Linked DNA regions of Homo sapiens. The protein of the gene in region 3 purifies or fractionates together with the protein of the main gene of each other region. This does not show direct contact. Each region holds a gene or a part of one and is shown on either strand. Other genes may lie near its edges.

Region 1 (4,444 bases), on a different chromosome or scaffold from region 3:
GTGGTGTTAGGAGCATTAACCGGTTGCATATTTACAATCTACATAATATAATTTGTTGCTGCAGCAAACCAGGGACTGTGAAGAGTAAGAAAAGGGAAACCACTTCCATTCCTTGCTTGGGGTTTACTGCCCTTGCCTGGAGTTGAGAGTTTAGACTCTGCAATGTTTTACATATGTGATATAATCTCCACATACATATGCACACAAAATTATGAAGACGCAGGAACGAGGGGAGACAGATTCCTATGTAAAGGTGACCCTGCTTCTTCTGGGCATTTGTTTATTCATTCAGTACCTGCCAGTGCCCTACTCTGTTACAAATTCAGTAAAAATTTCCTTGGAATTCACTGAATATGCTCAAAAACAGTCAAGTAGGATGTTCTTTGCTACTGTTTGGCTTGGAGTTTCCTTGAAAGAAACTACAGAACAAATATAATTAACTCGATTGAATTCACTGGAAAGTAAAGTGATCAATAGTTGTGTTTTTGAGTTAACTGAAAAGTGACCTCAGGAATCACAGGAAAGGCCCAAAATTAGTCGTTTGAAACAGCTATTCATAGTTGGCCACAATATTAACACCTTCGGCGAAGCTGCGTGGTGCCCGGGGTGGAGTTCCCGAGTGTCAACAGCGTCCCTTGGGCGCTTGCGGTGGTCTTTGCCCGGCACTACCAGACCCCTCAGGGAGGACTTTTGGGATTAAAGGCATCTTAAAAGCCAACTGAACTGTGTGAGAGTTGTCAAGGTCACAACGGAGTCGTTTGTGTTTAAAACCCTGACAAGCAGGGTGGGAAGGGCCCCAGAGGCAGCGTTCTCACGCCGGAATGCCCGATAACAAGACCGTCCCGAGAGACTCCGCAAAAGCCACAACCTTGCACACTGGCTAGGCAACCTCACACCGAAAAATACCGGAGGACTCCCGCCAGCGGCGCCCGTCCGACCTCCGGCGGGCGGCGCCCTCTCACCCGTCCTCCTGGCCGCAAAATGACCGCAAACAGGGACGCCGCCCTCTCATCCCACCGCCACCCCGGCTGCGCTCAGCGGCCGCGCACCCCCACGTTTGCCAGCAGCTCCCAGAGGCGGTCAGCCTTTGGGTTTGACGACGGCAACTTCCCGGGCCTCGGCGAGCGCAGCCACGCACCCGGAAGCCGCCTCGGGGCGCGACGCCGAGCCAAAACCGCCCGCGGGCTCCGAGGCCACAGGCAAGTGGGGAGGGTGCCCCGTGGGGCTCGAGGGGACGCAGGCACGCCCAGCCCACGCACCGAGCACTCTCCTTTCCCGTCCCCGGCTCCCGCCAGCCGAGACACAACGCTCGCGTGATGACGTCGTGCGCCTGCCCGGCCCACTCCAGTAGTCTCCGACCCGGCCCACGGCCCGCCCCGCGCGATGACGTCAGTATCCACCCCGCCCGCTCCCGGTGACGTGCCAGCCCCAGGCCCACGCCGCTCCCGCCCCGCGTGATGACGCCACCGTCCCGGGCGGAGGCGGGCGTGCGGCGGAGCCGCGTCCCCTCAGAGGGGCGCTGGCGCGGGGCTGAGCCGCCCGGGATCAGCGCGAGCACCCAGCCCGCCTCGGCCGGGAGGGCAGCGCGGCACTGCGGGGCGATGAGCGGCGCCCGGGGCGAGGGCCCGGAGGCGGGCGCCGGCGGGGCTGGGGGCCGCGCGGCGCCTGAGAACCCCGGGGGCGTGCTGAGCGTGGAGCTGCCCGGGCTGCTGGCGCAGCTGGCGCGGAGCTTCGCGCTGCTGCTGCCCGTGTACGCGCTGGGCTACCTGGGGCTCAGCTTCAGCTGGGTTCTCCTCGCGCTCGCGCTGCTCGCCTGGTGTCGCCGCAGCCGCGGCCTCAAGGCCCTGCGCCTGTGCCGCGCGCTGGCGCTGCTGGAAGACGAGGAGCGCGTCGTGCGCCTGGGGGTGCGCGCCTGCGACCTGCCCGCCTGGGTGAGTGCAGACCCCTGCCCGTCCCGACCCCTGACCACCAGTCCCGATCTCCCCTCGTCCAGGCAGGCACTCCCCTCCCCGCGACCTGCCGCCTGGGTGAGTGCAGACCCCAGCCCTGCCCCGGCTCCCGCCTTCGTAGTCCCCCACCCACCCCGGTCCAGGCAGGCGCTTCCCTTCCGCCTGGGCGAGTGCAGACCCCAGCCCCGGCCCCCGGGCCGGTTCCTGCGACCTGCCAACCTAGGTGAGTGCAGACCCCGCCCCGCCCCCCGGCCCCGACTCCCAGCCTGCTGGCGACCTGCCCGCTAGGGCGAGTGCAGACCCCAGCCCCGCCCCGGCCTCCGGCCCACTCCCTGCGAACCTGTCCGCCTGGGGCCGCCGCCCGCTGCTCGCCGCTCCCGCCCTAGTCCTGAGTGCTCCGTGCCCTCCCTCCGTCCAAGTCGGGCGTCCCCTTCTCCGCTTCCCCGCCCGCCCAGGCTCCGGGTCCGGGGCGCGTCTGCCCTCGTGAAGCCTCCCCTCGCCGTCCCGCGCGGCTTTCTCGGAGACCCCTCTTCACAAAGCCCGCTTCCCTCCCCCGGCCTGCAGACCCCGAGCGCCAGCGGCAGGTACCGGGCTTGGCGCCCCCTCTTCGGCCGCGGCCCTGCCCGGAGCGCGCGCTTCCTCCTGGTGCCGCCCGCGGGGTCTCCTTAGGGGCCTGAGCGGCCGGTTCTGCTCTCAGAGCGCCCAGCGCGATTCTCGTGCGCATTCCCAAAGCCCTGCCGGCCTGGAAATGCTCCGGGTGGCTTCAGCTTTTCCTTCTCTCTGTTTTTTAAAAAACGTAATGACAGCTGGTGGGGGAGAAGTTAACTTTTTCTTCTACCGGGAGAAGACGCACTCGTGTCTTGGTTGTTTCTGACGCATTTCAAGGGCAGTAAGTGTCTCTCGAAAGATGTGGAGATATTAGATAATTGAAAGATTGTTTCAGTTTTTTTGCAAGTATAATTGTGAGACTGAGCATTTTTATATGGGATCGACCTGAATCCAGTGTGAATGTGTGTGTGTGTGGCAGGAAGTTTTGGAAGAGTTGCAGCAATAACAAGAGTCATGGTATTATTTTATTTTTAACCCGGCAGTTCTCTACCTCGTATATTTATGGACTATAGACACGAAGAGTTGGCTTCAAATCTTTTTCTTGTCATTCCCTAATTCTTTCTTAGCCATGACTTGGCTTCACAGTTTCACACTGCAAGAAAGGATTTTAATGATTCTTCCATTAGGCTTAATATAAACTTTGGGGTGAAGGTGACCAGCAGTGGGTTTCGGAAGGGTCATTTTCTCTTAGAGGAGAAAAGTCCCTGTTTCCAGTCATGAGACACCTGAGAAGTAAGGCATGACACAGATGGCAAACAAGAATTAGAAAGGAGGCGTGCCCAAGACAAGAAGAAGGTAGTAGATGCTACTTTGTGACGTCATATTGCAACTGGAGTAAGAATATAATGTAAGGAGCTTGGGAATGTACAGTTCTGCCGATGCGTGGTGAGCATGAGGGAGTCATATTTGGAGAACCAAGGTAACTGGCATGGTGCAGCTTTTAGCTAGCGGCGGGAAAAACCGAGGGGTGTGTAGAAAAAGGAAGTTAAGAGGAACCGAGGTGGGGAAAACTAAGAACAGAGGAGGTGCACTTTGGAAATGGAAAAGGACTTTAAAGTGACGTTTTGTGTCTATATTACACTAAGATGCATAATACTAAAAAGTAGCTAAAAACAGAGTCCATTAGCATCCATTGCTATGTTATATTGATAACATAGCAATGTTATCAGTGCTGAAATTTGCAGGAAGTGATGATGCTGACTTTCATAGATACTTGGTTATTGGCTAATATCAAATTTGCTTGTTAAAAATCTTTGTGAAACACAGATTTTCTTTTTCTTTTCTTTTTTTTTTTTTTTTGAGACAGAGCCTCTCCCTGTTGCCCAGGCTGGAGTGCAATGGCGTGATCTCGGCTCACTACAACCTCCGCCTCCAGGGTTCAAAAGATTCTCCTGCCTCAGCCTCCCGAGTAGCTGGGATTACAGGCGTGCACCATCACGCCCAGCTAATCTTTGTATTTTTAGTAGAAACAGGGTTTCACCATGTTGGCCAGGCTGGTCTCAAACTCCTGACCTTGTGTTCCGCCTGCCTTGGCCTCCCCAAGTGCAGGGATTACAGGCGTGAGCCACCGCGCCCGGCCACACAGACTGTACAGATGAAATTGCTGCCCTATTGAAGAACTGAAATTTTTTTTTTTTTTTTTGAGACGGAATCTCGCTCTGTTGCCAGGCTGAAGTGCAGTGGCACCATCTCAACTCACTGCAACCTCCGCCTCCCGGGTTCAAGCCATTCTCCTGCCTCAGCCTCCCGAATAGCTGGGACTACAGGCGCACACCACCACACCCAGTTAATTTTTGTATTTTTAGTAGAGACTGGGTTTCACCATGTTGGCCAGGATGGTCTCGATCTCTTGACCTCGTGATCCACCCGCCTCAGCCTCCTAAAGT
Region 2 (3,647 bases), on a different chromosome or scaffold from region 3:
TCAATTTGAATTTACACAATTTGATTCTGAGTAAGCGGGGTTTTTTTGCAGACATGTTAACCTGTGTAGGTTGTCATGTATTTTTCTGAATGTGCCACATCAGGGCTAATGTGGTGTTGGCTCTTCCCATCATTGGTGACGAGAAGGCTGACAACTCCATTGTAAAATGACCTTTTACCTTTTGTGGTTAATAGAGAATTGGTGAGGTGATACTTTAGAACTCTGAATATCTTTTTCTCTAGAGTCCTTCACCAGTGCTCTCATATCCAGGCATCTATACATGGTTCTTACCTGAATCAGTTAACTGTGTTGGTTGTGAAAGAGTGATTTTCTATTTTCATAATTCTTTCTGTTTTTTTTTAATTAATTAACTTACTTATTTTGAGACAGGGTCTCACTCTGTTGCCCAGGCTGGAGTGTAATGATGCAATCATGGCTCACTGCAGCCTCCACCTCTCCCAGCTCAGATGATCCTCCCACTTCTGCCTCCTGAGTAGCTGGGGCCACAGGCGCACCACCACGCCCAACTGAGTTTTGTATTTTTTGTAGGGATAGGGTTTCACTATGTTGCCCACACTGGTCTTGAACTCCTGGGCTCAAGTGATCTGCCCCGCCTTAGCCTCCCAAAGTTCTGGGATTACAGATGTGAGCCACTATGCTGGGCCATTCCTTCTGTTTTTATTAAGTAACATTCCCATGTAAAAATAACCTGTGCCTTCTCTCCTTCCCCGGTTTCGAAAGTTATTTTAGTATTAGTGGGGACTCTAGGATTTTAAAAATTCAACATAATGGAATCCATTTCTGTCATTTGTTTTGAGCATCAAATTTGACTAGTGGAGACCCCTTAAAGCTGCCTCTTGTGTCCTTTGATTTGTCCTTTGATTTTTAAGTGCATCAATACTTTCAGTTTCAACTTTCCCTTTCCCTGTCCCAGCCTGGAGTCAGCTATTTCTCCAAGGAACTGTGGTCCTTTTTAGTGGAGAATGGTCCTTAGAAACTGAGATCCAGGCACTGGAAGTGCTCATTGCTCCTGGCCTGTCATTTCTTTTAGGTCTTTTCAGGAGATAGTAGCTAGGAGGTGTAGATAGTAGCTAGGAGGTGTGATGCTTTTTTTTTTAATTAAATTACTAACTTCATATTGTTATGAACTGCTTCCAATTCAATACCGTTTTCTCTCTTCACTTTATATATTTTTTTCTTTTTACTCCTGGTAAAAAGTCTGTTCTTAGTAACATTAATGTGTAATATTTAGTTGTGGCTGGGCACAGTGGCTCACACCTGTAATCCCAGCACTTTGGGAGGCCAAGGCGAGCGGATCACCTGAGGTCAGGAGATCGAGACCATCCTGGCTAACACGGTGAATCCCCGTCTCTACTAAAGATACAAAAAATTAGCCGGGCGTGGTGGCATGCGCCTGTAGTCCCAGCTACTCGGGAGGCTGAGGCAGGAGAATCGCTTGAACCTGGGAGGTGGAGGTTGCAGTGAGCCGAGATCCCGCCACTGCACTCCAGCCTGGACCACAGAGTGAGACACTGTCTCAAAAAAAAAAAAAAAAAATTAGTTGTTTGCTGAGTTCCACAACATAAATGAAATAGTTTCAGAATTACTCCACCAATAATAATTCCCACATCAAATCAACTACATAATATTCAGGACTTCCTAGCACATTCTGTCCTTAGAACGTCCCTTGAAGATGTATGGTCAAAGTAGTCAGTTCACACTTTGGCTTTTTTCCCTGTGTGATTGTTTTCCATCTGATGCACAGTTAGGTTGGTTTGCTTCCGTTTATAAACTTACCTTTAAATATTTATAGAGCAGCTATTGGGATACATTTATTTTTTTTCTCTCAACAAATACTGAATGCCTACTCTGTGCTGTCACAGCGTCACACGCAGGGCTTACACACGTGGTTAAGAGCATAATTACTGCCTTAAGCGGGGCCATGGCAACAAGGATGTCATATGAATAAAGGGGGCAAGCCCTGTAATCAGGCTGTGCCCGGGGTACTGTGGGGTTTAGCGTGGCTCATTGATAGGCACAAGGAACAAAGATTTCCAGACAAGATGGTGATTCCTGAAGGCAAATGGAATTATTCAGGGAAAAATAAACTTAATACCAAATTTTAAAACACTTAAATACAGCTACTACATTTCCTCTTCAGAAGAATTAACCATATTGCTTACAGTCTGTTTTTAAGCACTCTAGTAAAAGAAATACTGTCTGTACCTTGTCCTGGTAAATATTTTTATTTTGTTACTTTAGCTTCTTCATATTGACAAAAGAAGAGAATATCTTTATCAACTTCAGGAGTTTTTGGTGACAGATAATAGTAGAAATTGGCGGTTTCGAGCTGAACTGGCTGAGTAAGTTCTAACAGTTTATTAGATTATGTTTTGGAGGGGTATATATTTACTTCATTTTTACATTTTCTCAGTTTCTTCATTACTTTGTGTAGATCCAAGTTTCTATGTGGTATTCTAGCCCTTTAACGCTTCCTGTAATATGTGTCTTACTGTCAGTGAATTTCCTCAGCTTTTTTATTTTTTCTTGAAAATGTCTTTAGTTCATCTTTATATTATTTTTATCATGGTGAAATACACATAGCCAAATTTGCTGTTGATGACATTTAGTCCATTCACAGTGTTGTGGAACCATTCCCTCTATCTAGTTCTGAAATGTTAACCTCCCGAAAAGAAAAACCCATGCCCAATAAGCATCTACTATCTATGGATTTGCCTGTTGCGGACATTTCATGCAAGTGGAGTCATATAACACATGGCCTTTTGTGCTTGGTTTCTTCATTTAACAATGTTTTCAGTTGTCCTCCATATTGTATCCTCTAGCTGAACCTGCCTTCCTTTTTGTGGTTGAGTAATATTCCATTGTATGGATATACCACATTCGTTTAGGGCATTCATCTGTTGAGGAACATTTGGGTTGGGGGTGTGGTCTTTTGTGAATAGTGCTGCTAGGAACGTTTATGTACAAGATTTAATATTTGAAATCTGTTTTCAGTTCTTTTGAGGTGAATTTGCAAGGCCATATGGTAATTCTGTGTTTAATTTCTTGAGGAACTGCCAAAACTTTTCCACAACAGCTATACCATTTTACATTCCCATCAGCAATGTATGGGAGTTCCAGTTTCTCTGTCTCCTCACTAACACCTATTTTTCTACTAAATTTTAAAAATATTTCTAAATTGGCCAAATAATAATTGTGCATATTTGTGAGGTATGTAATGATGTTGCAATACGTATCGGATAGTGGTCAGATAAGGGCAGTTAGCATATCCATCACTCGCTTATCATTTACAGCTGTTCTGATGGGCTTGGAACAGCACTTCATTGTGGTATGATTTGCATTTCCCTAATGACTAATGATGTTGAACACTTTTCCATAAGCCTGTCAACCATTTGTGTATATTTTGTGGAGAAATGTCTATCCAAGTCTGTTGCACATTTTTAAATTGGATTATCTTAAGTTGTGTTGTTGAGTTGTAAGAGTTCTTTATATATTCTGGATTATAGACCTCACCTGCATTTTCAAATGATGTCTTTGCTGAGTATGGAATGTGGGGCTGACAGTTTGTCTTTCAGTATATTAAAGATGCCACTCCATTGAGTTCTGGCTTGCCCACTTCTGACTCA
Region 3 (3,647 bases):
CAGAAGCCATTTGATTAAATAAAGCCCTTCCCACGATTGTTAATGTGGATCAGAAAAGATAGTGTTCGTGAAAGTGCTTTGTAAAATGTAAAATAAAAGGTAAATGTAAAATTGATTATTCCTATTTATGAACCACCTACTGAGGGCCCTCCATATGGCGGGTGTTTTGGGAAGTAGGTACTAATTTAAGACAGCTTTTGGTCTGAAGTTGCATATAGTATGGCTGGGGAGCCAGACAAGGAAACCCGTTAAGTGCTATGTAGTGTTAAGAAGTGCACTGAATCCAACCAAGAGAGTCAAGGAAGGCTTCTTGGAGCAGGGATGGCTTTTCCCCAACCTTTCCTATTATTCTGCAGAGTCTGCCTTTAGTGAGTGACTTGCTTTTTATAAAAACTTGAAAAAAAATTCTGTCATGGGTTCTTTTCCCCTTTTATTCATTCACTGTCATGACAGTTCCCACACAGTATGCCCCAGTTATGGCTTCTGCATTCTCAAAAATCCAGCAGTCTTGGGAAAACCTTTCTATATGAGTCATATACACAGGCAACAAACACAAACATTGCAGCTGCAATTAAAATATCTCAGATTACTAAGTGGTGACAACTTTAGAGTGATGATGCTTTTTTGTTTTTGTTTTGTAAACTAGTACAAGAGGCACTGTGTTTTTAATTTGATGACAATTAATACAGTAAATATTTAATTGTTATTCCTTACAATGTTGATTATAGGTGGTTATTAGTACTGTCTCCTTTTTCCCAACAATAAATAAAATGAGAAGATCTTAATTCCTTTTTGATTGAAGCTGACCGCTTAAGTGAGAATTACACTAAACTTTCTTTTTCTTTTTTATTTTTTTGAGACCAAGTCTTGCTCTATCGCCTAGGCTGGAGTGCAGTGGCGCAATCTCTGCTCACTGTAACCTCTACCTCCCGGGTTCCAGCGATTCTCCTGCCTCAGCCTCCCGAGTAGCTGGGAGTACAGGCACCCGCCCCACGCCCGGCTAATTTTTGTAGTTTTTTTTTAGTAGAGGTGGGATTTCACCATATTGGCCAGGCTGGTCTCGAACTCCTGACCATGTGATCCGCCCACCTTTGCCTCCCAAAGTGCTGGGATTACAGGCTTCAGCCACCGCTCCCGACGAATTACACTAAACTTTTATAGAATCTATGTGGATTGGTGTTGCTAGTAGCTTTGATATTGAACTTCTGTATCCCAGTACAAGTTATTTACCTTAGTGCTGTAGTTGTTGTACAATTAATTTAGCGTGTTGTTGCCTATATTGCAAAAACTTCGAATTTTTGGATTGAGTGAAATTTTTATGTGGCACTGTATTATTGAACATATACCATCTGTATCTTAACTGAAAATGAGTGATCTAAAGTTGCGGCTGATGGAAAAGTGAAGGTGATGTGTTCAGTTTTCTATAATGTGACAGCTTGCTACATGTACAAGGATATGACTTACAGACAAGTCATTTAAAAATTGTCCAGCATTAAGCTTATAATATAGCTTATGACTTATAGGCAAGTCTTTCTTTTCTTTTTTTCTTTTTTTTTTTTTTTTTGAGACGGAGTCTCGGGTCTGTCGCCAGGCTAGATAGAGTGCAGTGGCGCGATCTCGGCTCACTGCAAGCTCCACCTCCCAGGTTCACGCCATTCTCCTGCCTCAGCCTCCCGAGTAGCTGAGACTACAGGCGCCCACTACCACAGCTGGCTAATTTTTTGTATTTTTAGTAAAGACAGGGTTTCACTGTGTTAGCCAGGATTGTCTCGATTTCCAGACCTCGTGATCTGCCCGCCTCGGCCTCCCAAAGTGTGGGGATTACAGGCGTGAGCCACTGTGCCTGCCTAATTTTTGTATTTTTAGTAAAGATGGGGTTTCAACATGTTGGCCAAGCTGGTCTGGAGCTCCTGATCTCAGGTGATCCGCTGGCCTTGGCCTCCCAAAGTGCTGGGATTACAGGCGTGAGCCACAGTGCCCTGCCTGAAATTTCTACTTTTTAATTTGTAAAGTTGTTTGTTTGTTTGTTTGTTTGTTTGTTTTGAGAGGAAGTCTCTCTCTGTTGCCTAGGCTGGAGGGCAGTGGCGCCATCTTGGCTCACTGCAACCTTTGCTTCTGGGTTCAAGTGATTCTCCTGCCTCAGCCTCCTGAGTAACTGGTATTACAGGTGCACACCACCATGCCTGGCTAATTTTGTATTTTTAGTAGACACGGGGTTTCACCATGTTGGCCAGGCTACTCTCGAACTCCTGTCTTCAAGTGATCCACCTGCCTCAGCCTCCCAAAGTGCTAGGATTACAGGCATGAGCTACTGTGCTGGCCTGTAAAGTTTTTTTCTGAGTTTTTAATTTTTTCCAGTGTTTTGCTTCAAAGGTGGATGTATCTTGTGATGCTTTGATGCGCACACACACACACAGATAAGTGTATTTATATATGTACACTATATAAATCTGATAAATGTATAGTTATTATATATGGCAATAGTCACTTTTAAAATTGTACTATTCTGACAGGCCGGGTGCGGTGGCTCATGCCTATAATCCCAGCACTGTGGGAGGCTGAGGTGGGTGGATCACTTGAGGTCAGGAGTTCAAGACCAGCTTGGCCAACATGGTGAAACCCCATCTCTACTACTAAAAATACAAAAATTAGTGTGTGCCTGTAATCCCAGTTACCTAGGAGGCTGAGCCAGGAGAATCACTTGAACCCAGGAGGCAGAGGTTGCAGTGAGTTGATGTCCCTCCACTGCCCTCCAGCCTGGGCGACAGAGTGAGACTCTGTCTCAGAAAAAAAAAAAAAAAAATGTACTGTTCAGTACAGTAATTTAGCTTAGTAACTTATTTTCTCTTGTTTTTTTTTTTTTTTCCCCGAGACGGAGTCTAGCTCTGTCGCCCAGGCTGGAGTGCAGTGGCGCAATCTCGGCTCACTGCAAGCTCTGCTTCCCGGGTTCACACCATTCTCCTGCCTCAGCCTCCTCAGTAGCTGGGACTACATGCGCCCACCACCACGCCCAGCTAATTTTTTGTATTTTTGGTGGAGACGGGGTTTCACTGTGTTAGCCAGGATGGTCTCGATCTCCTGACCTCATGATCCGCCCGCCTCGGACTCCCAAAGTGCTGTGATTACAGGTGTGAGCCACTACGCCTCGCTCTCTTATTTTCTAGTAATAAATAGATTTGAAGTAGTTCATTTAATTTCTATAAAGGCAAGCGTGTTTTGGTTTTAGCTGGTAATGTTCCCTTAGAATATTTTCTATTTAGGATACTTTCAGTTGTTTTAAGGAATTCACTAGTATGGGGGTAAACGCACTTTCAAATGTTTCCTTTATTGATCTCTAATAAGGTAGGGTGTTTACTTTTTTGCTTTTCATTATAAATTTCTTCGTAAAGAATTGGTGAAGTGGTCACCTCAGTGGTAGCAAATAAGTTTCCTTGCTACTTTCTGTATCACTATATTGTACATGGATTTTAATTTATTCATTATTTTACACTTCGTTCTCACCATTAGTCGTTCTGACCCTGAAATTTGGCCAGCATAAGCCTCCTTAAGTTGGTAGTGTGTCCTTCTGATATGTCACCTTTGGTCTTGGAGTGCTTCCTTATTTTTTGTCACAACAAGCTATCCCGGATTCACCTTGTATCTACCTG

What was found.
Region 1: the proteins of FBXO42 (region 3) and ESYT2 purify together in Homo sapiens (affinity purification with mass spectrometry, with the first as the bait; one large-scale study listed by BioGRID). This does not show direct contact.
Region 2: the proteins of FBXO42 (region 3) and PPP4R1 purify together in Homo sapiens (affinity purification with mass spectrometry; one large-scale study listed by BioGRID and IntAct). This does not show direct contact.

What each region holds. Positions count from the first base shown.
Region 1 is NC_000007.14:158,826,576-158,831,019, reverse strand, and holds the start of ESYT2 (extended synaptotagmin-2), read left to right. Parts: upstream 1-1,510; 5' UTR 1,511-1,601; coding exon 1,602-1,931; intron 1,932-1,999; exon of another isoform or gene 2,000-2,838; intron 2,839-4,444. UniProt on the Homo sapiens protein: Tethers the endoplasmic reticulum to the cell membrane and promotes the formation of appositions between the endoplasmic reticulum and the cell membrane. Binds glycerophospholipids in a barrel-like domain and may play a role in cellular lipid transport.
Region 2 is NC_000018.10:9,552,038-9,555,684, reverse strand, and holds part of PPP4R1 (serine/threonine-protein phosphatase 4 regulatory subunit 1), read left to right. Parts: intron 1-2,262; coding exon 2,263-2,363; intron 2,364-3,647. UniProt on the Homo sapiens protein: Regulatory subunit of serine/threonine-protein phosphatase 4. May play a role in regulation of cell division in renal glomeruli. The PPP4C-PPP4R1 PP4 complex may play a role in dephosphorylation and regulation of HDAC3.
Region 3 is NC_000001.11:16,345,910-16,349,556, reverse strand, and holds part of FBXO42 (F-box only protein 42), read left to right. Parts: intron 1-3,647. UniProt on the Homo sapiens protein: Substrate-recognition component of some SCF (SKP1-CUL1-F-box protein)-type E3 ubiquitin ligase complex. Specifically recognizes p53/TP53, promoting its ubiquitination and degradation.